Homo sapiens: one gene and its partners. The protein of the gene in region 1 purifies or fractionates together with the protein of each later gene. This does not show direct contact. Each region holds a gene or a part of one and is shown in the gene's direction. Other genes may lie near its edges.

The links.
Region 2: the proteins of SVOPL (region 1) and RTN2 purify together in Homo sapiens (affinity purification with mass spectrometry; one large-scale study listed by BioGRID and IntAct). This does not show direct contact.
Region 3: the proteins of SVOPL (region 1) and PCP4 purify together in Homo sapiens (affinity purification with mass spectrometry; one large-scale study listed by BioGRID and IntAct). This does not show direct contact.
Region 4: the proteins of SVOPL (region 1) and EIF5B purify together in Homo sapiens (affinity purification with mass spectrometry; one large-scale study listed by BioGRID and IntAct). This does not show direct contact.
Region 5: the proteins of SVOPL (region 1) and ARFGAP3 purify together in Homo sapiens (affinity purification with mass spectrometry; one large-scale study listed by BioGRID and IntAct). This does not show direct contact.
Region 6: the proteins of SVOPL (region 1) and ASCC3 purify together in Homo sapiens (affinity purification with mass spectrometry; one large-scale study listed by BioGRID and IntAct). This does not show direct contact.
Region 7: the proteins of SVOPL (region 1) and GAPVD1 purify together in Homo sapiens (affinity purification with mass spectrometry; one large-scale study listed by BioGRID and IntAct). This does not show direct contact.

What each region holds. Positions count from the first base shown.
Region 1 is NC_000007.14:138,659,863-138,663,362, reverse strand, and holds part of SVOPL (putative transporter SVOPL), read left to right. Parts: intron 1-217; coding exon 218-289; intron 290-3,374; coding exon 3,375-3,499; intron 3,500-3,500.
Region 2 is NC_000019.10:45,490,548-45,494,047, reverse strand, and holds part of RTN2 (reticulon-2), read left to right. Parts: intron 1-669; coding exon 670-888; intron 889-3,500. UniProt on the Homo sapiens protein: Inhibits amyloid precursor protein processing, probably by blocking BACE1 activity. Enhances trafficking of the glutamate transporter SLC1A1/EAAC1 from the endoplasmic reticulum to the cell surface.
Region 3 is NC_000021.9:39,926,438-39,929,892, forward strand, and holds the end of PCP4 (calmodulin regulator protein PCP4), read left to right. Parts: intron 1-2,546; coding exon 2,547-2,674; 3' UTR 2,675-2,955; downstream 2,956-3,455. UniProt on the Homo sapiens protein: Functions as a modulator of calcium-binding by calmodulin. Thereby, regulates calmodulin activity and the different processes it controls.
Region 4 is NC_000002.12:99,364,889-99,368,388, forward strand, and holds part of EIF5B (eukaryotic translation initiation factor 5B), read left to right. Parts: intron 1-3,500. UniProt on the Homo sapiens protein: Plays a role in translation initiation.
Region 5 is NC_000022.11:42,854,474-42,858,766, reverse strand, and holds the start of ARFGAP3 (ADP-ribosylation factor GTPase-activating protein 3), read left to right. Parts: upstream 1-1,493; 5' UTR 1,494-1,584; coding exon 1,585-1,653; intron 1,654-4,293.
Region 6 is NC_000006.12:100,507,694-100,511,011, reverse strand, and holds the end of ASCC3 (activating signal cointegrator 1 complex subunit 3), read left to right. Parts: intron 1-904; coding exon 905-1,080; intron 1,081-1,478; coding exon 1,479-1,626; 3' UTR 1,627-2,818; downstream 2,819-3,318. UniProt on the Homo sapiens protein: ATPase involved both in DNA repair and rescue of stalled ribosomes. 3'-5' DNA helicase involved in repair of alkylated DNA: promotes DNA unwinding to generate single-stranded substrate needed for ALKBH3, enabling ALKBH3 to process alkylated N3-methylcytosine (3mC) within double-stranded regions.
Region 7 is NC_000009.12:125,348,826-125,352,325, forward strand, and holds part of GAPVD1 (GTPase-activating protein and VPS9 domain-containing protein 1), read left to right. Parts: intron 1-564; coding exon 565-694; intron 695-1,469; coding exon 1,470-1,579; intron 1,580-1,887; coding exon 1,888-2,047; intron 2,048-3,500. UniProt on the Homo sapiens protein: Acts both as a GTPase-activating protein (GAP) and a guanine nucleotide exchange factor (GEF), and participates in various processes such as endocytosis, insulin receptor internalization or LC2A4/GLUT4 trafficking.

The sequences.
Region 1 (3,500 bases):
GGGCAGGATCTGCCTTGTTAGGCTCCCACCAACAGGGAGCTGAAATCCTGAACATGAAGGGCCTCAGGGGCAAGCAAGACCAACGTGAAACCCTGTTCTTTAAATTAACTTCCATCCCTCCCGTATTTCCAGCCTACTTCTAGTGAAAATGGCTAACGGGGTAAAGTAACATGTAAAACCTGCTTAGAGAACCGTTTTATCTCGCTCCCACTTGCAGATGGTGTTTTTTGGCTACATGGTTTTCAGTATCCTCTTTGGCCTCCTGGCTGACAGATATGGCCGCTGGAAGGTAGGTGGGGCCTCACAGTAGCATTTGGAATTGTCTTTTGTGTATTCTTTTGGGGGCAACCTTATCACTGTTTCTCTTTAGTAGGCATCTCCCTCCCAATACCCAAGATAGAAAATGCAGACATTTCCCTCCCTGATGGAACATTCCAGGCTTATCTTCTGGACATTTTTCTCAGGGTACCTGTGCCTGCAGCTGTTCCTCTGCAGTCCAGGTGTGGAGTAAAAGGAGATGCGGGTATTATAGAGTTCTAAGAAATCTCTACCCAGAAGGATTAAAGGAAGGAAGGCCGCTAAGTGGCTCTATTTGAACTTTTAAAGGTTGGGACTTAGAAGCAGTCATGGGTTGGTTAGATGCCCCCACCACGTCCAGTTTACTGTGGTGGTGTTGAGAACAGAGGTCTGATATCAGTGGGGGCACACATCTGTTCTCCATTTATCCATATCTTCGCTTCTAATGAGTTAATAAGGGGAATGGAAAAGGCCCCTTAGCCCTTCAGAGCAGCCCTATTGGGAGGTTTTTTCCTCTGGTTTTCATTTAAATGACTAGTCCACTGCTGCAACAGCAAGCTCAGAAGAAGCTGTTCTTTCAGGACTATGTGTCATGAGTGAGTGTCCATAAAGTCTCTAACCCCCCAGAGCACCCAAGTAGGTTGGGAGGGAGCAAGTCTCCCTTAATTTTGGGGCAAGAAAACTCACCCTCAGGCACCTATCTGTTTGAAACTAGCAGGAACTGGCCACAAATGAAAAGAGAAGTCCAAATTACAATCAGTAGGAAACAGATGCAAGTTTTAAAGCCTGTGATGGAATTTTAGGACAAGAAAAAGTAAAATGACTAGTGCTGGATGGCCAAGACCATTAAGCCAAACCTGCTGCTATGAGGCAGAGGCAGAGAAAGCAGAAGTTCTCTGCAGAGCCATTTGCCTGAATGTCCCGTCCAGGGACAGAAATGGAAGCCCATGCTCTTAAATGAGAGAGTTTATAAAGAAGCCACCCAAACTGTAGACCTCAACCTAAAGGAAAGGAGGGCCAGATTCAGAAAGACTCACCCTTTTGCCCCCAGTGAAACCTCTGGAGTTAGGGGAACGCAGTGGGTTCATGCAGCAAGTTCAAGAGGAGCCTATTGGTAATTGTGGGGGTAAGGGGTGGTGTTGCTCTGAACCTTGCCAGCTATGCCAGAAATATTGACCTAAAGGAAGAAACAGAGACGAAATTAATATAAGTAGGGAGTTTATTTGGACCAAGATTGAGGATTGCAGCTCGGAAGTCATACAGTCCAGTTGCCCTGAATATATGCTCCGATTAGCAGCAGTTACAAGTGGGTTTTTTAAAGGAGGAGAGAAAAGAATTTGGGGGCACTTCCTAAGTTATTTACTAATAATTTACATTGGTTCGTTAAAATAAGGTATGCTATCAGCTGATTCTACATCTTTCTTGGTGTCACAAAATCTAAAAACATGGAGATAATGGATGAGCGTCACATTGTGCAACTTGCGGTAACCTTTTAGGTAATTTATCAGCTAGTCTGGAAACTACAGGGAAGGTAAGAAAAACAAAATGAAATACAATTACCCTGGGCATGGGTGCGGGAATGTGACCGGAGTCGCATGCTCCTGTGTCTCTGGACCTGATAAATTCTGCATACCTCACATTCCTCAGACTGTTCTGAGCCGCTTTTCTCTCTCAAGTTGATGGATGTACGGAGTTAAAACATATTAGAGTGTGGACATTTGCAGGTATAAACATAAGCAGCTACACATTTTGCTCATGTTGGTATAGCTTTGAAACTAGCTACGTGCTCAAAGTCACGTGCCTACTAAGATTAGACATCAAGACATAAATTATGTCTTCTGATTACAAACCCAGGTCTGTCTTTTCTATTTGCTTGATTTCTGGTGAAATCCTCTCTGAGCATAAACACAAATGGAGGAATCTCAAAGGAAAACATTAGTAGAATTGGCTGTATGTTTTAAAGTACATGAAATAAATAGCATAGATTCTTGTAAATTTGAAAACACGAGTATCTCAAAAAAGCACAAAAAGGCATTTTATAAAAGAAATACAAATTATCAAGAAACTTTGAAAAAACATTAAAGTACAGGAGTTATCAAAAACAAAATACATAGCAAGATATAATTTTTCCTTATCAAATATGTAAGGAAATTTTTCCTTAAAGAGTCCTGCACCGTTGAAATGGACATTTTCATGACTTGCAAGTATATAGACACCCTTACTATATATAACACCCTGTTGGTGTTAATATATCATTATTATTATATAATATTATTAAACCCTATTGGTATAATTTTTCTGACCATCAGCCTGGCAGTATGAAACATGAACCTTGAAAATATTCTGCTAACCTGAACATTTGTCTTCCAGAAATCTAGCTTGCTAAAGATATCAGAGAGGGCATAACGACTTATGTACAGATATCATCGCAGCTTATTTTAATAATGAGAAGATCTGAAACAACTTAAACTGCAACAGTAGAGCAAGGTCTTATGTATTATATTACATGTATGAAAGTACATCTTTCCACTGGAACATTTATAGCCAGCCATTAACACTTCGTTTTCTCTCATAAACAGAGAAGATAAAACAGTGTTAAGAGTTATCTTCTCTGGGTTGGACAATCAATGGTGATTTCAATTTCTTAATTTTCTTTTTTCTTCTGTATTGTTTACTATGAATTTATCCTTATAATTAAAGAAAAAGCAAATACCTTAAATGTTCTCCTTGTACTCCTCCCAACATACTGCCTCATTACGTCCCCAGCAGCCCTGTGAGTAGGGAGGACACGTTTTTGCCTTTTGATGTCCAAGTTCAGGGACCTGCCACCCATGAGGGTGGGCACAGCATGGTAGTTTTAAAGAATGGTCTGAACTTGGTAGGTCTGGGCTTCCAGACAGTAGAATGGCATGGATTGTATTGTTGGATGATTGTGAAAGACCAGTGGGCTTGCTACAGGTTAGCTCCTCAGAGAAGCAACTATCAGGATGGAAACCGAAAATCGCCTTCAGAAGTTAGGGCTTCTTCCCTCCCCGCATTGAGGCAGGTCCCATTCATGTGTTCTGCTGTTGCTTCAGATTCTGCTCATCTCGTTCCTGTGGGGAGCCTATTTCTCCTTGCTGACCTCGTTTGCTCCTTCGTACATCTGGTTTGTCTTCCTGCGGACGATGGTGGGCTGTGGTGTGTCCGGCCACTCGCAAGGG
Region 2 (3,500 bases), on another chromosome or scaffold:
GACGTGATATCACATCTGGCTAGACGTGATAAACTCCGCTTTTTAAAAAAATTTCCCCGGCCGGGCGCGGTGGCTCATGCCTGTAATCCCAGCCCTTTGGGAGGCCGAGGCGGGCGGATCACTTGAGGTGAGGAGTTCGAGATCAGCCTGGCCAACATGGTGAAACCCCGTCTGTACTCGGGAGGCTGAGGCAGGAGAATCGCTTGAACCTGGAAGGCAGAGGTTGCAGTGAGCCAAGATCGCGCCACTGCACTCCAGCCTGGGCGACAGAGCGAGACTCCGTCTCAAAAAATAAAAATAAAATAAAATAATCCTCCCTCTTCTGGAGTGCTCCTCCTAGTGGCTGATTTTGGACAGGCCAAATCCCTGAAAAAATACAGTTCTCTCCTTATTTAGATGTGGCCGTAGAATATTTATAAGTAAACTCTGTGCCTTTTAAAAACTCTTCTTTTTGGCCGGGCGCAGTGGCTCATGCCTGTAATCCTAAACACTTTGGGAGGCCGAGGCGGGAGGATCCTTTGAAGCCAAGAGTGCAAGACCAGCCTGGGCAACATAGGGAGACTCGATCTCTATTTGAAAAAACAAACAAAAACCCTCTTTTTCCTGACCACATCTATTGGCCAGTTGTAAAATGACCCAGCCTTACTTTAAAATATGCTCCGCCTCCAGGAACAGCTATGGAATGGTTAAAGACATCATTGCTTTTGGCTGTTTACAAGACGGTTCCAATTTTGGAATTGTCCCCACCTCTGTGGACAGCCATTGGCTGGGTCCAAAGGGGCCCCACCCCCCCTACTCCTGTCCTCCGGGTTCTACTGAAGTGGGCAAAATCCCCGAGAAGCAGCGGTGTCCCCAGCCTCTCACTCGGAGCCGATATGGGGAGTAAAGGTGGGCTTGCGGAACGGGCTGGACGGGGGCTGAGGTCGGCGGAACGGGGTCCAAACTCGCCCTTATCTCCTGCACATCCGGAGCATTTTTATTACTGATCTGCTTCCGCAGCGCTGCAGGCTGGGGCTAGGGGGCCGAGGGGCAGTATAGGGAGGACCCAGAGGGAGCATGGGGTCCCTTCTCCTTCGAGCCAGCACTTTGGGGCCCAGGAGCAGGGAGGACCCCCTCCCCCAGCCTCGGCCCCAGGCAGCGCTGTCACTCAGGGGCCAGACGGGCCAGAACAGCTGCGGGGAGGCCCCCTCCCCCCAGCGTGCCTAAACTTAGCCCCCGCCTCAGGCGACCTGGCCCCTCCCCCATCCACCGGCGCCGGCCACTAGGAGCCTGCCTGGGAGGGCCCTGCTATGGGGAGGGAGGGGCTGCCCTATTTGGAGGTAAATGAGAGGAGATGCATTGGAAGGAGACGGAAGTGAGGGGTGAGCCTCTAAGAGGGACCGGTCGGAGGGGTCAGTTGGAGGGAGTGTGGGAGGATAGAGAGGATCTGGAAAGAAATAGAAAGGTACTGAGTTCCTGGTTTTCAGGACTCAAAGGAAAGCAGATTACTAAAGTTTCTTTTTCTTTTTAAGCCACAGAGTCTCCCTCTGTCGCCCTTTCTGGAGTGCAGTGGTGGGATCATAGCTCACTGCAGCCTCCAACACCTGGGCACAAGTGATCCTCCCACCTCAGCCTCCCAAGTAGTTGGGACTAGAGCCACAGGCCACCACGCCCTGCTAATTTTCTTATTTTGTTTGTAGAGACAGGGTCTCACTATGTTGTCCAGGCCTCAGGTGATCCTCCCGCCTCGGCCTCCCAAAGTGTTGTGATTACAGGAGTGAGCCTAAAGTTTAGACAGATGAGATGAAGGTTGGGGTACAAAGGTCACTGGTCAGGGCTGAGGTTGGGTTTAGGAGGTGTGTTTTAGGGTCTCAGAAAGGGGTCAGAAATTTGAGTTAGGCCCTGGAAAGGAGTATGGCGTGATTAATACATTTAGGACTTAGAAACATGTGTTGCTAAGGGTATCAAGGGGATATCACTTTACACCTGACAGATTGGCAAAAGTTAAAAAGAACTGCAACCCACTGCAGGGCAGGATGCTGGGAAAAGATCTTTCTCTTGCTTCTTGTGGAAATAAGAACTGTTATGGTCTTACTAGTAAGCAGTGTTTCAAAATTTATGACATTAAAAAAATATATATGACCGAGCGCGGTGGCTCATGCCTGTAATCCCAACACTTTGGGAGGCCGAGGTGGGAGGATCACTTGAAGCCAGGAATTCAACCTGGGCAACATAGCGAGACCCTATCTCTACAAAACATTTAAAAATTAGCCAGGTTTAGGAGGTCGAGGTGGGCAGATCACAAGGTCAGGAGATCGAGACCATCCTGGCTAACATGGTGAAACCCCGTCTCTACTAAAATACAAAAAATTAGCCGGGCATGGTGACGGGCGCCTGTAGTCCCAGCTACTCGGGAGGCTGAGGCAGGAGAATGGCGTGAACCCGGGAGGCAGAGCTTGCAGTGAGCTGAGATCGCGCCACTGCACTCCAGCTTGGGCAACAGAGCGAGATTCTGCCTCAAAAAAAAAAAAAAAAATTAGCCAGGCCAGGCATGGCAGCTCATGCCTGTGATCCCAGCTAGTTGGGAGGCTGAGGCACAAGAATCTCTTGAACTCGGGAGGCAGAGGCTGCAGTGAGCTGAGATCATGCCACTGTACTCCAGCCTGGGTGACAGAGGAAGACTTTGTCCAAAAAAAAAAAAAAAAAAATTAGCACGATATCGTGGTGCCACCTGTAGTCCCAGCTGCTAGGAGGCCGAGGTAGGAGGTTTGCTTGACTCTGGGAGGTAGAGGCTGTAGTGAGCCATGATCACGCCACTGCACTCCAGCCAGGGTGACAGAGTGAGACTCTGCCTCTAAAAATAAAAAAAAAAAAAATGTGGCCGGGCGTGGTGGCTCACGCCTGTAATCCCAGCACTTTTGGAGGCCAAGGTGGGTGGATCACCTGAGGTCAGGAGATCAAGACCATCCTGGCTAACACGGTGAAACCCCATCTCTAACTAAAAATAACAAAAAATTAGCCAGGCATGATGGCACATGCCTGTAATCCCAGCTACTCGGGAGGCTGAGGCAGGAGAATCGCTTGAACCCGGGAGGTGGAGGTTGCAGTGAGCCGAGATTGCACAATTGCACTCCAGCCTGGGCAACAAGAGCGAAACTCTGTCTCAAAAAAAAAAACAAACAAACAAACCAAGGTCAGGCGTGGTGTCTCACGCTTGTAATCCCAACACTTTGGGAGGCCGAGGTGGGAGGATTACTTGAGGTCAGGAGTTCGAGACCAGCCTGGCCAACATGGTGAAACCCCATCTCTACCAAAATATAAAAAATTAGCCGGGTGTGGTGGAGCCCTCCTGTAATCTCAGCTACTCAGGAGGCTGAGGCAGGAGAATTGCTTGAACCCAGGAAGCGGAGGTTGCAGTGAGCCAAGATTGTGCCATTGCACTCCAGCCTAGGCAATAGAGCGAGAATCCGTCTCAAAAAAAATAAAAACAAAAACAAAACACACACACACACACACACACA
Region 3 (3,455 bases), on another chromosome or scaffold:
AACTTCAGATTCCAGCAACATTTTACATTTAAAAGGGAAACTTCCCCTCCTACTTGGAATCAGGAGTGAATTTTTCCCCTTTGCACTCACTGTACAGTTGATGCAAGGATTCCTCTGGGAGTAGAAGGATTTGGGACTATAAACCATCTTATGAAAAATGACAACTCCCAGTGCTGTAGATGCTACCTAACCAAGGATGTTATTGGTACAAAAGGGTTTATTGCCATGAGCACAAACACTGGAGCCATTTGCATTCTGGGTTTGCTAGACACTTGACCTCCAGTCCCAGGCTCATGTGATAACATTAATTAACCACTTTTAAAACATCTACTTGAGCCACAGGAAACTTTTACTTCTCCCAGTGATCCTACCCCTTATTTTTCTCCAAAGAAAGGGCCCTGGCAATGTAGAAGACAATGTGAATAGCTACCTGGAGTGTGAGAAACAGTTCCACTTGTCTATCATTTGGGCTGTCCTGGGTTAAAAAGGAAGCACCCCCATCCCCTGCCTCTGAAATATTCCTGAACATTGGTGCACTCAACATCTCTGCTTTTATGAGCATTGGCAGCAAGTTTGAAATAGAAGACAACAGTTCTCTGATTTGGGTCATGGCTCCATCAGTCCTACAAGGCTTCCAAAGCCAGAGCTGACATTCCCTCCTCCTAGGTGAGAGGATGATTGAAGGGTCCCAGGTGGAAACTGATTAGGATCTAGGAAAATTGAGAGGAGGCTGCTTACAGCTCTGCAGATGCATCTGAAATAAGTGCTGATTCTCATCTATCTATTACCTGTCTATCTGTATTTGTCTATCATCTACTTATGTTTGTCTGTCTGTCTCTCTGATCTATCTATCTATCTATCTATCTATCTATCTATCTATCTATCATCTATCTATCTATCTGTCTATCTATCTATCTATCTATCTATCTATCATCTATCTATCTATCTATCTATCATCATCTATCTAGAGCAAGCAGGATAGAACAGGCAGGCCTTACCTCAAGTCCTCAAGGAACCCCAGCTTCCTCCACCCTCTCTGATAGAGCTGGTGCCTGAGCATTATTATGCAAAGTCCCTAAACAAGGTAGTGGATGATGAACTCAGGCTGCCTGGTGACACTCAGGAATAGAGCCCCACTCCCTGCTCACTGGCTGGGGCTTTTCCTCTGCCTCAGAATGCCTCCAGTTCTCCCATCTCCAAGTTGGCTGTGCTCCTCACAGGGCTGGCCTCCTCTGCTCTAGGTGCAAGCCCAGGGTGGCAGCGAGGCTCTTGGCCCAGGTCCCAGGAGAGGTCAGTTCTGTCCCCAGTTCTGGCTTGAGCTAACTCCAAGGCCTCCTTTGTCCTTGGATCTCAATTCTGGCCACACCTGAGAGTCTTTTTAAAAGAAGTGTAGATGTCTGGCCTCCCCACAGGGACACGGATTTCTCAACATCCATCTTGCTCTTAGGAGCACCCTTCCCACTGCGGCTGTGCAAGGAGGAAGCCCTGAGTCTGGGGTGAGACCCTCATGCCTGTATTTAAAAAAAGAAAGAAAAAGAAAAACGATGCCTTTGATGAATCTGATGTTTAGCCTTCATCAGACTAGAGGCATTTATTATTTTATTTTAGTTTTTTATTTCTGTAGGTTTTTGGGGAACAGGTGGTGTTTGGTTACATGAGTAAGTTCTTCAGTGGTGATTTGTAAGATTTTGATACACCCATCACCTGAGCAGCATACACTATACACTCTACGGCCATACCACCCTGAACACGCCGGGTCTCATCAGACTAGAGGCTTTTGAAAGACATTTACCTTCCACGACTGAAGAATTTTATTGATTTATTTGTTTTTCCGTCTTGGCTGCACTGGCCCTGTGCTGTGGTAAGGTATACAGCACAGAGGCCCAAGCCTTCGTTCCTCACCACCCCCCACTTTGTGTCCTGTCACCGTGTGAATTGGTGAAATCCCTCCACCTCAGCAAGCCATTTGCCAAGTCTACCTCATAGGAACAAGAATGTAAGCTTTGTGAAAGTTCAGTCGAACTGTGAAGGTCAAATGGTGTCATCCCATCTTGACGATGATAAAAATGGAAGCCCTGATTGCAATAAGCAAATCTTTCCTGAGAATGACACACAGAATTATACACGGAAACTCAGTATATGACTCTGCTGACTCAGTAATTGTGAATATCAGCTATCATTGGACCAATATCTTAGCAATATTAAATGGTACCTCTGTGAGATAGCAGGAGAAAGTAACAGCACAGCCAGTATTAAAACCATATATCAAGATGGTCACTGAGAACAGAAAATCATGTGCAGAAAATACATGAAGTGTTGAGACTGTGTCCTTGAGTTTCATTGTCCTGCTCAGGTGGTAGATTCTGAGCTCTGTCAAAACACTCCACTGGATTTTACTTTGCAGATGAGCTCTTGTCCTGGGGTGTAAGTTAAGCCCCTGTGTGTGCCCCAAGGTGGACTTCCTGGCTTCACTTATCTAGTGGGGCTGTCTGCTTTCCTATTTTCAGCTCAGTGATTGCCTTCTGTTTGTGTTTGTCTTGCTACAGATGGACAGAAGAAAGTTCAAGAAGAATTTGACATTGACATGGATGCACCAGAGACAGAACGTGCAGCGGTGGCCATTCAGTCTCAGTTCAGAAAATTCCAGAAGAAGAAGGCTGGGTCTCAGTCCTAGTGGGAGAACCCCCTCCTAGTCCACCTGAAAACACCAAATTCAACCATCATCTGTCAAGAAATTAAAAGAACAACACCCTAGAGAGAAGTCATCCACACACAATCCACACACGCATAGCAAACCTCCAATGCATGTACAGAAACCTGTGATATTTATACCCTTGTAGGAAGGTATAGACAATGGAATTGTGAGTAGCTTAATCTCTATGTTTCTCTCCATTTTCATTCCTCCTGCAACTATTTTCCTTGATGTTGTAATAAAATGAAGTTACGATGAGTGAATTCAAGTGACTGCCTTTCTTTCTCTCTTTATTTTACCCGATGTTAGAGGTGACTGTGAGCCAGGTGTCTATTTCTTTCTCTTAGGAGTCAGAGATGTAACACATTGTCTTCTGTTAGGAGCTTTTTTGCTGAGAGTGAGAGATCCATTTTCAGCCATGCTTGCCTCATTTGGAGAGTCCTAAGTGCTGGCTGGCGATGGCAACGTATTTTCTTCTTATCATGGGAATAGAGCCCTGTATCCTCGGGTGCCAAAGACAGAAGTTTCCCTGGGGAATTATGACTGATTCAGGAGAACAAAATGGGAGAAGGTGATGCATTTGTGTTTGGAGCATCCCCAGATTTACTCAGCAGACCCATTTCAGATCTCCAAAGGGGACACTCTAGCCTGTTATAGGCCATTCTGCAGCTTACCTGCAGTGCTCTGCACCTGTGTGGCTCCAGGGTACTGGCACCCTCTCTAAACTCCCCAACTTCCTCTATGCTGTGATTTGCCACGTGGT
Region 4 (3,500 bases), on another chromosome or scaffold:
AACCCTTTCCTTACTTTCTGATGCAACAAGATATCCCAGGTTCATCTTGCATGGGCTGAGACCTGGAATCGGTTGTTTATCCAAAGAGCTTTTGTTCCTTTTAGAGGGTAATAGTGTTTAGAGATCACAACTGGGCATATAATTTATTACTTTTTTGAAAGGTAAGGTGATTTAAAATAGTGTCTTTGCTCCAATGAGAAGAATATATTGGGACCTCTCTTAAATTTCCTGCTCCTATATTCCCTAGATTTTTATATTACAGTCATTTTGGTGTTTATGCTATAATTACAGTAATAGCTACCATTTATTGTGTGCTTAGTGTGTAACTGATGCTACAATGTCTTTGACATTGTCTATTTTTCCCTCATAAAAAAATCTTATAGCTATTTTTACTTCCATCATATAGATGAAGAAATGGTGGTTCAGAGTGTAAACAGCTTACCCAAGGCCACAGAGCTGAAATTTAAGCTGGTCTGTGCAACTTTTTCTTACGCATATGTTCAGCTAGGAACATTAGATGTGAAGAAACCCAGTACTTAGATTTTAGAAAGTTTTATTCTTAATGGAGAATATAGCTTTTGTAAAATTTTAAATGAAATTAGGTACAAACTTGAATATAGTTAGCATTCATACATCAGATTTCATTGGTGACTATTGGAGAGGCTAAAAGCACCCATGAAGAAATTCAGATGGGACCAAGCAGGGAGTAATTTGCCAGTCTCAAAAATGCTGTTTTAAGGAGCAGTTAGACTTGTAGTTATGGAAATTACAGTGTAGAATGGTGGACTTTTAGCATCAGTCTTTAGCATTAGGCTTGTAAGAGATGCTCTCTCAAGTGGCATCCCTGACGCTGGTCTCTTACTCTTCATAGTGTTGTCCAGTGTTTACCATCTTATTAGTTCCCTATTGTCTACTAATAAGAATCCAAATTCCTTAGCTTGACATTCAAGGTTCCCCCCCACCCACAGCCCACTCATGTGAGTCATCTCATTAAAAGATCCTACAGTGTTGTTTCATCGTATGTTTGAAAGACAGCTGCTTACCACATTTATTACCTAGAATATTGTAAAACTTATTCATTGAGCTAAAAATGTACTCTCAGAGAGTGTAGGCATCTGCAGGTGTCTTCATATAATTGCTCTGAAATGTGCAGCAGGTTAACTTTTCAGTCATCCTTTAGCCTGTGACTACTAAGCATATACACACACACACATATATGAGTACTTTATCAATAATTTGTAATAAACTCATTTCAGGCAAAGAGCTTCTTCAAGAACTTGATTGTTATGTCTCAGTTTGCAAAGTGAATGGAATGTCTAAACACATACAAGTCTTGGTGTTGATTCCAAGTACAGCAGCTTATTTGAGAGTCTGAGACTAGAGCAGTAGTCAGTTGATTAAGTCTAGGGTGTTATTGGGACCACCCTTCAGGTAATCCAGCCTACAGTTTCCCCTCAGGCCCATGCTTTTCATCTTAGTAGGTGTAGGCTGCTAGGCAAGGAAAACTTAAAGTGATGATCTCTGCATTCTCAGCTGGCTTTATCCTCTTTCTTTGGTTTGTTTAATGTATTCGTCTTACCAGTCATAGCTATGGTTTTACCATTCTAGCCATTCTTCAGTACATGCACAACACACATCCATATACATTCCTACGTTAGAGATAACATTTTTAGTCATTTTCCTTTATTAGTGACTTCATTCAAAATCCCATGGTATACAATTTCTGTTGTCTTTATTCTAAGGCTTCTGCCCATAGTGAGAGACTGAGTCAGTAATCCAGTAATCTGTAGATTCAGTTCAATCCCAGTCAAAATCACAGCATGGTATTTTGTAGCTATCTGTCAACTAGTTCTAAAATGGATATGAAGAGACCAGAGAGTTAGAATGGCCAAAATATGTTTGAAAAAGGAGAACAAACTTAGAATACCTGATTTCAAGACTTAGTATAAAGCTATAGGAATTAATACAGTGTGATATTGCCAGAAAGATAGACAAACAGATAAATAGTCTATACATGGTTAGTATATAGGTGAAAGGTAATTCAGTGGATAAAATACAGTATTTGTAGCAAGTGGTACTAGAACAATTGGACATCTGTATGCAGAAAAACCCAAAACCAGTTTTAATTCCCACTGTATAAAAATTGACCCAAATGGGTATCATATGTAAATGTAAAATATACAATAATACTTTCAGAGGAAAACATAGGAGGATATCTTGTGTTAGGCAGAGTGCTTAGATAGGACTCTAAACCATAAAAGGAAAAAAGATACATTTTGAGAAAGACCAGTTCAGAACTTTTCTCTGCAAAAGACACTGTCAAGAGAATTCCAAGACAGTACCTCCAAGTCAGATATCTGAGAAAGAATTAACATCCAAAATATATAAAGACCTCTCAAAATTCAACTATAAGAAAACCAATAAGTTCATTTAAAAATGGGCAAAAGGTATCAACAGACACTTTCACCAGAAAGCTATACGCATCTGAAAAGAATGTTCTAAAAAAAGAGAAACCTTTACCACATTCAGAGCAGTTGAAACTCTTTTTTTTTTTTTCTCTCTTTTTTTGAGACAGAGTTTCGCTATTGTCCAGACTGGATTGCAGTGGCGCAATCTCAGCCCACTGCAACCTCTGCCTCCCAGGTTCAAGTGATTCTCCTGCCTCAGCCTCCTGAGTAGCTGGGATTATAGGCACCCACCACCACAATATATATATATTTTATATAATACAATTTTTTGTATTTTTAGTAGAGATGGGGTTTCACCATGTTGGCCAGGATGGTCCTGGACTCCTGACCTCAGGTGATCCACCCACCTCGGCTTCCCAAAGTGCTGGGATTACAGGCGTGAGCCATTGCGCCTGGCCAAAACTCTTCTGCATTAGTGGTGGGAATGCAAGATAGTATAGCCACTTTGGAAAACAACTGGCAGTGTCTTTATAAAAATTAAGGTCATATTTACCTTATGTTTCATCATTCACACTACAAAATATTTGCCCAAGAGAAATGTTCACACAGAAACCTGTCTGAAAATGTTCATACCTGCTTTATTCATAATTGCAAAAAACCAGAAACAACTCAAATGTCCTTCAGCTGTTGAATGGATAAGCAAACTGATATATCCATACAATGGAATGCTGCCCAACAATGAAAGTAAACGAAGTATTGACATGTGCAGCAGAGTGAGTGACTCTCAAATCCATTATGATGATAGAGGCCAGACCGTAAGATTCCATTTATGTGACATTTTAGAAAAAGCAAATCTTTTGGTTGGAGAACAGATCAGTGGTTACCAGAGGCTAAGAAGGTAAGGAGGGTTTGATTACATGGAGCAGCACAGGATGATGGAGTGATGGAGCTTTTCTGCATCTTCATTGTGATGGTGATACACGTATCAAAACTCTCACTGTATGTGAAACGAGGATTTTTACTGTATGTAAATTTTAAAATACCTTATATGTAAAAGATACAAGTTTTTCCATGAATATCCTTTCATATTTT
Region 5 (4,293 bases), on another chromosome or scaffold:
CCTGTGCTACTCAGCACTGATTCTTTAATTTCTTTGTACAGATGAATAAACCATGGTTTATTTTATTTTACTTTTTGAGACAGGGTCTTGGTCTGTCGCCCATGCTGGAGTGCAGTGGTGCGATCTTGGCTCACTGCAGCCTCGACCTCCTGGACTAAAGCGATCCTCCCACCTCAGCCTCCCAAGTAGCTAGGACTACAGGCCCATGCCAGCATGCCCGGCTAATTTTTGCATTTTTTTATAGAGACGGGGTTTCACCATATTATCCAGTCTGGTCTTGAACTCCTGAGCTCAAGTGATCCTCCCGCCTCAGCCTCCCAAAGTGCTGGGATCACAGGCATGAGCCCCTGAGACTGCAAATAAACCATGCTTTAGAGAAGGTAAGTGTCTTGACCAAGGCCACAGAGCTAGGAAGCAGCTGGCTGAACTGGGATTGAGGCCAAGGTAGTGCCTTTGATGCCAAAACCTGCTGTCCTTCCTCACTATCACCCAACCTCTTTCCAGTGGCTCCACACCCATTGTGGTGACAGAGGCACCTTCTGCTGAGTGTAAACTCTTCTGGCTGGAATTGTTTCCCAGAGGGTAGGGTGCAGCCCCGAGGGCCGGGGTTAAAAGTCAAGCTTCTCATCTGGACTCATCAGTTCTGACTGAGCACTTCTGCCTCAACCCGCACTGCCATCTCTCCATGAACGTGACACAAAAGCCCTTGGTTTCAGAAAGCCAGTTTCCGGGCAAAGAAAGCTTTCCACCCAGGGCCTGGCGTGAGCTGAGGGCAAGAATTAAAAAGAGTCGGGCGCGGCGGCTCACGTCTGTAATCCCAGCAATTTGGAAGGCCGAAGTGGGTGGATCACCTGAAGTCAGGAGTTCGAGACCAGCCTGGGCAACATGGTGAAACCCTGGTCTCTACTAAAAATACAAAAATTAGCCGGGCGTGGTGATGTACGCCTGTAATCCCACCTACTCGGGAGGCTGAGGCAGGAGAATCGCTTGAACCAGGGAGGTTGCAAGGAGCCGCAATCGCGCCATTACACTCCAGCCTGGGGGACAGAGCGAGGCTCCGTCTCAAAAAAAAAAAAAAAAAAAGGGAAGGCCACCAGCTAAGGTCCGGCGTCAAGGCACGGGCCCTCCGTCCGTCTCGTGCCGAAGGAGGGCGCGTGCGCCCCTTCCCCTGCCTCTGACCTTTCCATGGAAGCAGCCCGTTAGGCGAAATGGCGATCGACCAGGCGAAACGTTGGTGGATCCTATGGCAGCGCGCGTGGCAGGCAGCCACACCCGGGCCCGGCTTCGCCCAGCGCTAAGGGCGTGGAGCCGCGCCGCAAATGGCGCGCGAGCCTCCTGCGCACGCGCGTGCAGCGCCTGGGGTCGGGCCAGCGGCGCGGCTGAAGCGAGGGCGGGGAGGGAAAGCGAGCGGCGCCTGCGCCCCGGCGGTGGACGGGCCCGGTCGTGGGCGGGGATTGGGGCGGAGCCTGACCGTTACGCGCAGCCCCGCCCCCGCGGCCTCGTCGCTCCTGCTGAGGCGGTAGCCGCTTTTCGTCGACTCTTACCGGTTGGCTGGGCCAGCTGCGCCGCGGCTCACAGCTGACGATGGGGGACCCCAGCAAGCAGGACATCTTGACCATCTTCAAGCGCCTCCGCTCGGTGCCCACTAACAAGGTAGCGGCCGCGGGCGAGTGCGGGCCTGCCTGGCATCCCTGCGGGAACCGGCGGGAGGCCCCGCGGGCGCCAGTGCCCGTGGCTTGGGAGGCGGGGCCGGCGCGGCCTGTGACACGTCGCACTGTGGGGCCGCGGCAGCCTGGCCGGGCCGGGGCGGGCGGGGCCGGGCAGCTGAGAGGCCCGGGCGGGAGGCCGCAGCGCGGGGGTCCTCACGCGAGCCGGGGAGCGTTCCCGGGGGCGGCGGCGCGGGCACACCCCCCGGCGAGCTCTTGGGGCGGGGGGCGAGCACCGGCGGCTCTGAGCGGAGGCGGGGGCGGGGGCATCCTCGGGGGCGCTGCGAGGAGGGAGCTCCCGGCTCGGAAACCCCGGCTGCTGGCGCCGGATGCGGGGAAAGCGCGGCTCCCCCAGCGCCACCCTGGAGCTCGACCCCGCCTGTTGGAGCCGGCTTGGCTCCTCGGGCCTTGCGGTGCCTGCCTCAGTTTCTCTTCTGATAAAGTTGCCGAGTAGTCTACGCTTTGGCTTCCAGCTTTTGTCGCTTTGGCCAGGGAGGCTCACCACAGCCTCCTCCCTCTCCTCGGTTCTCTTTGGAGATGGAGGTTTCCTTTTTTTTTTTGTCTCCAGAGGCTGTTCTCTCCCTGGAACTTTTACAGCTTTGCGCAGCTGGCTGGAGGCGTTGGGGTGACGCAGGGGGCTAAGGTGACACGTCGGGTCGGAGAGGGACTTGGAGAGTGCAAAGGGCTGTCGCGTCAGCGTGGGCTCTCCCCGCCCCTCCTGTGACACGAGTGTTGTCTGGTTCCCACTGTCACTTCCCGAAGGGAACAGCTGTTATTGAACCTCGATATGCTGGCATAGAAAGTTCCCGAGTGTTACAAAATAGGTGTTTCTGTTGGTTTTAAGTCTTGATGGTACAGGGGAGCCCATATTTTTTCCAGCCTAGGTGAGGAAGGAAACAGTTTATTGGAGGTGATGTCTGATGGATGTGGGAAAGTTAAGAGAAAGGCTCCAGGAATTCTCCAGTGCCCGTTTCTTTACTGTTCTCTTGATTTTCACATTTTTATTTATTTATTTTTTTAGAGACAGGGTCTCACCCCGTCACCCAGGCTGAAGTGTAGTGCCTTGATCCTAGCTCACTGCAGCCTTGACCTACCCAGCCCAAGCCATCCTTCCTTCCCAGCCTCCTGATGAGGCTGACACCACAGGGCTGTACCACCACGCCCAGCTAATTGTTATTATTAATTAATTAATTAATTAATTTTTGTAGAGACAGGGTCTTGCTATGTTGCCCGTGCTGGTGTCAAATTCCTGGGCTCAAGCAGTCCTCCTGCCTCCTCCTGCCTTGGCCTCCCAGAGTGCTAGGATTACAGGCATGAGCCACCATGCTGGCCTTAATGTTCTTTTTTTTTTTTTTAACGTTTTAATTTTAATTTTTTTGAGACAGAGCCTTGCTCTGTCGCCCAGGCTGGAGTGCAGTGGTGCGATCTCAGCTCACTGCAACCTCTGCCTCCTGGGTTTGAGCAATTCTGCCTCAGCCTCCTGAGTCGCCAGGATTACAGGCATCCACCACTACACTCAAGTAATTTTTATATTTTTAGTAGAGACGAGGTTTCACCATGTCAGTCACTCTGGTCTCAAACTCCTGGCCTCAAGTGATCCACCCGCCTCGGCCTCCTGAAGTGCTGGGATTACAGGCGTGAGCCACCGCGCCCAGCCTTGATTTTTAAATTTAGATTGATGTGTTTATAAAGAGTGGGTCCTGTGTAACTTAGTCAAGATTAGGATCTGCGGTTAGCAATGTGTAAACTATATTTTTTTGTCACCTTTATCTCAGAAACATCAACATGTATTCTCTTTGATTTAATTCAAAGATAATTTTAAATTAGAAATCAATGTCTTTATATCAAGAGGCTTTTGAGAGACAGGCTTGTATTGTCCAAACTGCTACTTTCTAGGTATGTCACCCTTGGACAGGTTACTTGACCACTTTGTCCCTTTTTTCCTCCTCTGAAAATGGGGCATGAACTAGACCTGACTCAGAGGGTTATTGTGAAGATTAAATGGAATAATCCAAGAAAAACACTTAGAGTAGGAACTGCATATAATAGTCTTCAATAAATGGCAGCTGTTTTTATGATGAAGAACACACCTGTGAAAAATTTATATTCTGTAATAAGATTAATAAAAGCAATGAGCAAAAATGTTTTCTGGTAATGTTTAACAGTAATGTGCTATATTTCTTGGTTGAGACCTTTTATTTGATCATTGGTTTGAAACCCTTACCTAAACGAAGATAACAATAGCATTTTAAAATTGGGGTCATAAAAGACAGCTCTAAGATACATGAGCCAGGAAAGGTAATCAAAGAAAAACAAGTCGGCTTACTTTTAGAACATGGTATCCAATTTCTTCGTCTCATGTATGATGATTTACTCTAGATCAAAGGTCATGAGGGTCAATTCTCTTTTTTCTTTTTCTTTCTTTTTTTTTTTCTTTTGAGACAGTCTAGCTCTGTTGTCCAGTCTGGAGTGCAGTGGTGCGATCTTGGCACACTGCGACCTCCTCCTCCCAGGTTCAAGCGATTCTCTTGCATCAGCCTCCTGAGTAGCTGGGACTACAGGCGTGTGCCATCACGCATGGCTAATT
Region 6 (3,318 bases), on another chromosome or scaffold:
TACTTAAAGCTTAGATTTAATCATGCCAGAAAATCTCTTAATTTTTGTTTCTGAATGCTGTAAAAATATATTACTCTCTGACTCCCTTTTGAAATACTGTAAGTGAAACATCTCCCTCTAGAATACTGAGTGAAGTCTGAGAATGTATCATTATTACTATATTTTATGCCATAAAGTCATTGTCTTAAAGAATCATTAGAATAATCTTGCATTTTATAAAAATTGATCTAAAATAAAGACCTCAAGTGCGATCATTATATTTATATCTAATTTTGGATTGTGGTGATTAATATATTTTACAAATTGCTTGACTTAAAATTGCCCATTCCTCAGAGAAGGGACTTTTTAATGTTACCATATTAGAATATGTGCTTTTTTATGTGAGTTTTATTCTTGGATGAGGGGGAAAGTATGTGTTTGATATAGTACTCATCATCTTGGGGTCCAGAGTCTAGTCTTGATTGGCTTTGTGTTTTTGTTTGTTTGTTTGTTTTCTTAAGCATTCGTTTTTGGTGAATAAGGTTTTGGAAGATTTGATTAACATGGTTATGTCTCAATTTGTTCATCTACCAATGTGGTATTAAAGTTAATTGTAGGAATAGCATGAGAATTTGCTAATTTGATGTCAAGATCCAGAGTTTTTTATTCTAACTGGCCATATATTCTGATAGTTACAACTACGAACTAGTGTCTATAATATGCTCTGAGAATCTTGAAGTAAGTTAAATAATTGCATATCAAAGACACCAAACCAGAATGGAAGAAAATTTAAAACATCTCAGATAGATATGCTGAACTATGTAGATGTATGGCCTTCAAGTAAGACAACGTAGCCTTAACCACAACCAAGTGGTATAGGAAGTCTAGATATTTTTAATGTTGTATCTTTTTTTCTGGTTTACAGGGAAAGCCAGAGAGCTGTGCAGTTACTCCTCGATTTCCCAAATCAAAAGACGAAGGATGGTTTTTGATATTAGGAGAAGTGGATAAGAGAGAACTTATTGCTTTGAAAAGAGTAGGATATATTCGAAATCATCATGTTGCTTCCCTTTCTTTTTATACCCCTGAAATACCTGGAAGGTAAGAAGAATCCTACTACCAAAGTTCTCTTTTTTTTTTTTTTTGAGGCGGAGTCTCGCTCTGTCGCCCAGGCTGGAGTGCAGTGGCGCGATCTCTGCTCACTGCAAGCTCCGCCTCCCGGGTTCACGCCATTCTCCTGCCTCAGCCTCCCGAGTAGCTGGGACTACAGGCGCCCGCCACTGCGCCCGGCTAATTTTTTGTATTTTTAGTAGAGACGGGGTTTCACCGTGGTCTCCATCTCCTGACCTCGTGATCCGCCCGCCTCGGCCTCCCAAAGTGCTGGGATTACAGGCGTGAGCCACCGCACCCAGCCTCCTACTACCAAAGTTCTGAAAGAATTAAATATGATTGTGATTACAAAAGTGGTTTTACATTTTTCTTCTATTTTTATATTTTAGGTATATCTACACATTATATTTCATGAGTGACTGCTACCTTGGCCTGGACCAGCAGTATGACATCTATCTCAACGTTACACAAGCGAGTCTTTCTGCACAGGTCAACACCAAGGTCTCTGATTCCCTGACTGACCTGGCATTAAAGTAACTTGACCTGAACAATCCATTTGAAAGGAGTGGCTAAGAATTCTCTCTGTTCAGTCATCTAGACAAATCGAATTACTTGATGTTTGCCTTGAAAGAATCAACTTCTAACCTCAACCATCCAGGAAATTGACAGTGGCTGCAGTATTGACTCCAGTGACATAAAGTTAACCACAGTGGCCTTTTAACAAATGTTGCCTTTTATAATGTTATCTTTATGAGTTTCTTGATATGTAAGATGAAAAAGCATTTAGAATAATCTTTTAATTTGTGTATATTTGGGATGATATTTAGGAGCTATCAATCAAATTTTACATCTCACAATGTACTGTTTACATGGATATTGGCTGCTTTTTTTAAGGAAAACCACATTGAGATGTGACAAGTGTTAGGACTTGTCACAGATTTCTAACTCTGCCGCATAAACTATAAATCTGTAAGGTGGTACACAGCGTGTCTTGTTAGCAAAATTTATACTTTGATATGATCACATGTAGAAGTAGCTTCAAGAATTTCTTGTAGTCATAAATGTTTAATAATATATGATGTAAAATTATATTATGGAGCCTAATGATGATAACAAAGAAAACAATATACTGATCTTAGAAAATGTAGACATGGTTAACTGGGAAATAAAATATAGAGTGGCACTTCAAGACAAGCTGACTCAATGTTTTCTTCTGCTTCCTTTAAATAATATCCCCTTACTCATCTGTTCTTCTTTTCTTTCCCTTCTACTTCAAGGCTTTATTTCTATTATCTTTCTGACATATTTATTTACAGAAGTAGAGAAGTATAATCTAATTCATGTTGTAGCACTTACAGATCATATAGTACAATTATTTGTCTTTATGCTCTCCAGGAAAAATCTGAGACAGAAAATTTTTCACCCCTATGGATAGGTTTTCACCTGTAATAAAGAAAATTTCTCTATGTCCAAACAAATTCCTTCTTGAAAAATACTTTTTCAAACTAAAAACTTGTTAAAATTCAATGTTCATATAATATGCATTCTAGTGGAATGAAATTCTACCTTTGTGAAATAATTTCAGTTTTCTTAGCCCTAAAATGAATTATTTTAAAACATTTTCCAATGTCATTGTTACAAATACTAGAATTTAAGTGTTTCTGAAATTGGAATGTATTGCTTGTATATATCCTTTTCCATGCTTAAATAAAAAAGAAGAAGAAATAAATGTAGGTTGCAGGGGAACCAGTTATTCACTTCCCAAAAATTAAATCGAAATAACTATTGTGAGCAAACCAAGTATAGTGAGAATGAGGTGTCCCAATTACTCTAGTCTGAGAAATTTACTTCATATAAAGAGTTCTCTCTGTTTTTTCTTTGGCAAAGTTTATTACCTAATTGGAATTTATATCTTAACCACTGTTTTAGTAGAATTAAAAGAAAATGGAGATTATATATAGATAACAATCACCAGTCCATACAGGAACCTGAGGAGTAACAATCTCACTGATTCCATGTTTACCAACATCATTCCTTTTTGTTAGCGAGCAAGCCAACTTGGGGAGTCTCCTTCACTGGACATACGACACAGGACATAGGAACAATAAGAAAGTATTTCTGTTGTCCCCTTTAGAGAGAAGAGAAATAATGTGACAAATTTAAGTTAATCTTATTCCAATGAGTGACCGACACTATCTACAACTTTATCCACACTCATTACTCAACAAA
Region 7 (3,500 bases), on another chromosome or scaffold:
AAGACATAAAACCAACTTTGGAAACCACAGATCTGACTTTGTTGCATGTGTGATTTGGTCCCTTGACTCACTCTTGGGTGTAGCAGGAAGACCTCCAGTAGAGAGAATCAGGAGACCTTAACCCATAGTCAACCTTGGCCATTGGCCAACCAAGAAATTTAGAGCAAGCCATTTTCTGACTGGGCAGGAGTCCATGTCTATAAAATGAGGGTATAAAATGATTTTTGAAGCCTCTTTTAGTTCTCTGGTTCAGTGATTCTAAGATGTTAACTTTATTAAGTTAATGTGAACTTTCATTATTTTGCATTAGTTCATTGTTTTGCATTAGTATTGGGATAAGAAGTAAAACCACTCTCTTCTCAGCAACTAGTCTCTTGATACATAATTGTTGCTATTGATAATTCAGTTAAGTATTTGAAGTTTGTTTTTTCTTTCTTTTTTTTCCAGAGAACTCTTATTATTAGTCAATGGTAATTTATTCTTGAGTTGCTCTGAATACCTACTAGTGCCATAATATTCCAAATGAACCTGGGTATCCGTTTCTTGGGGGTGGGTTTTGTTTAGAGGTTATGGGTGATGGTGAAAGTGCACATGATTCTCCCCGTGACGAAGCACTGCAGAACATCTCGGCTGATGATCTCCCAGACTCTGCAAGCCAAGCAGCCCACCCGCAGGATTCAGCTTTCTCTTACAGGTATTTCTTTTATAGGATTTGGGACTTTAGGGTTTGGACTTTTCAGCACCATTGCAGTCACGTCAAGTCAAGTGATGTTTTGAGTCAATAAATGTATAAAGCAGGGAGAGAAAAATGAAATGCTGTTTACTAAGAAGACTTTGTTTCAGTTGTAGATGTTATGTATCAAAGGTGTTAATTCAAGGATTTAAAAAACTCGCTGGGCGTGGTGGCTCACGCCTGTAATCCCAGCACTTTAGGAGGCCAAGACAGGTGGATCGCTGGAGCCCAGGAGTTGGAGACCAGCTTGGGCAACATAGCAAAATCCCATCTCTATAAAAAAGAAAAAGGAAAAAAAAAAAAAGAAGAAAGGGTTTCTTGTCAGGTAGTGAGCTTATTTTGTGGCGTCATCAGCGTTTCTAAAGAGATGTGCCAGAAGGCATTCCAAATCTGGGTGTTGGGAGCTTCTGACTTCCGTGGTCCCTCCCACTCTGCCATAATATGCTTTTCCGATTCTTATAGCACCCGTCATGGAACTCAGTGTATGAAAAAAGGTCAGAAAGGATTTGTTGTTTGATTCTGGTGCTTTAAAGAATGGTCCTTGCCCCGAGCACACCTGGCTCCTTGGGTAATTAGAAAGCCTGTTCTTTTAAGTGGAGTGTCAGTTAAGAATCATCTTCTTTAAAATGTTTGAAACATTTGAGTCCTAAGGTAACATTAATTTATATAGTAAATATTTGTAAAATGTGACCATATCTGGATAAAGAAATTAATGTATTTTCTACTCATTTTTCAGAGATGCAAAAAAGAAACTGAGGCTTGCTCTTTGCTCTGCGGACTCTGTTGCCTTCCCAGTGCTGACCCATTCAACAAGGAATGGTTTACCAGACCACACAGACCCAGAAGGTAAATTGCTGCAGGATCGTTTAATTTTTCCTATGTTTATGGGTTGCACCATATGAAATTGCCAGTATTCAGCTGTTGAAGCTGTACAGCAATTCCATATGGTTCAACTTAATATGTTTACATTAGTATCACTTAAGGGCACTTTGATTACTGATGATTTATTAAAGTATTTTCTAATTGGGAGTGGCAATACAGCTTAGTTCTAATGATACGTGACAAAGCAGAATTGACGTCCCAAATGCTGAATTAGCTTATTTAAGCACATGGAAATTCTCAAGAATAACAGAATTCTTGTATCTTTTATTTAGACAATGAAATTGTATGCTTCTTAAAAGTTCAAATAGCTGAAGCAATTAATTTACAAGATAAGAATCTAATGGCTCAACTTCAAGAAACAATGCGCTGTGTGTGCCGTTTTGATAATAGGACTTGTAGGAAACTGCTGGCTTCGATTGCTGAGGACTACAGGTAATATACCCCACCTGTTCAGCTTTTAAACCTAGTTGTTAGCTGCAAGTGTTTTCTTTTTTATCCTTATTTCAGAAATGAATCTAGGCTTCCTACAAAGTGCTTGGCTGTATTTTCCTGGATGTAGATTTCTGTGTTAGTCTGTTCTCACGCTGCTGATAAAGATATACCCGAGACTAGCCAATTTACCAAAGAAGAGGTTTATTGGACTTACAGTTCCATGTGGCTGGGAGGCCTCACAATCATGGCGGAAGGTGAAAGGCACATCTCACATGGCAGCAGACAAGAGAAGAGAACTTGTTCAGGGAAACCCCCCTTTTTCAAAACCATCAGATCTTGTGAGACTTATTCACTATCACGAGAACAGCACAGGAAAGACCTGTCCCCATTGATTCAATTACCTCCCACTGGGTCCCTCCCACAACACATGGGAATTCAAGATGAGATTCGGGTGGGGACACAGCCAAACCATATCTTTCTGCCCCTTGCTTCTCCCAACTCATGTTCTCACATTTCAAAACCAATCATGCCTTCCCAACAGTTGCCCAAAGTCTTAACTCATTTTAGCATTAACTCAAAAGTCCACAGTCAAAAATTTCATCTGAGACAAGGCAAGTCCTTTCTGCCTATGAACCTGTAAAATCAAAATCAAGTTAGTTACTTCCTAGATACAATGGAGGTGCAGGCATTGGGTAAATACAGCCATTCCAAATGAGAAAAATTGGCAGAAACAAAGGGGCTACAGGCCCCATCCAAGTCTGAAATCCAGCAGGGCAGTCAAATCTTAAAGCTTCAAAATGAACTCCTTTGACTCCGTGGCTCACATCCAGGTCACGCTGATGCAAGAGGTGGGTTCCCATGGTCTTTCTTTTTTTTTTTTCCCCCGAGATGGAATTTCGCTCTTGTTGCCCAGGCTGGAGTGCAATGGTGCGATCTTGGCTCACTGCAACCTCTGCCTCCTGGGTTCAAGCAGTTCCCCTGCCTCAGCCTCCCAAGTAGCTGGGATTACAGGCATGCGCCACCACGCCTGGCTAATTTTGTATTTTTTAGTAGAGATGGGATGTCACCATATTAGCCAGGCTGGTCTTGAACTCCTGACCTCAAGTGATCCACCTAACTCAGCCTCCCAAAGTGCTGGGATTACAGGTGTCAGCCACCACACCCAGCCAGGGTTCCCATGGTCTTAGGCAGCTCCGCTCCTGTGGCTTTGCAGGGTATAGCCACTTTTCTGGCTGCTTTCATGGGCTGGTGTGGAGTTGCTGGCTTTTCTAGGTGCACGGTGCAAACTGTCAGTGGATCTGCCATTCTGAATTCTGGAAGACAGTGGCTCTCTTCTCACAGCTCTACTAGGCAGTGCCCCAGTAGGGACTCTTTGTGGGGGCTCCGATCCCACATTTCCTTTCCGCACTGCCCTTGCAGAGGTTCCCCATGAGGACCCTGCCCCTGCGGCAAA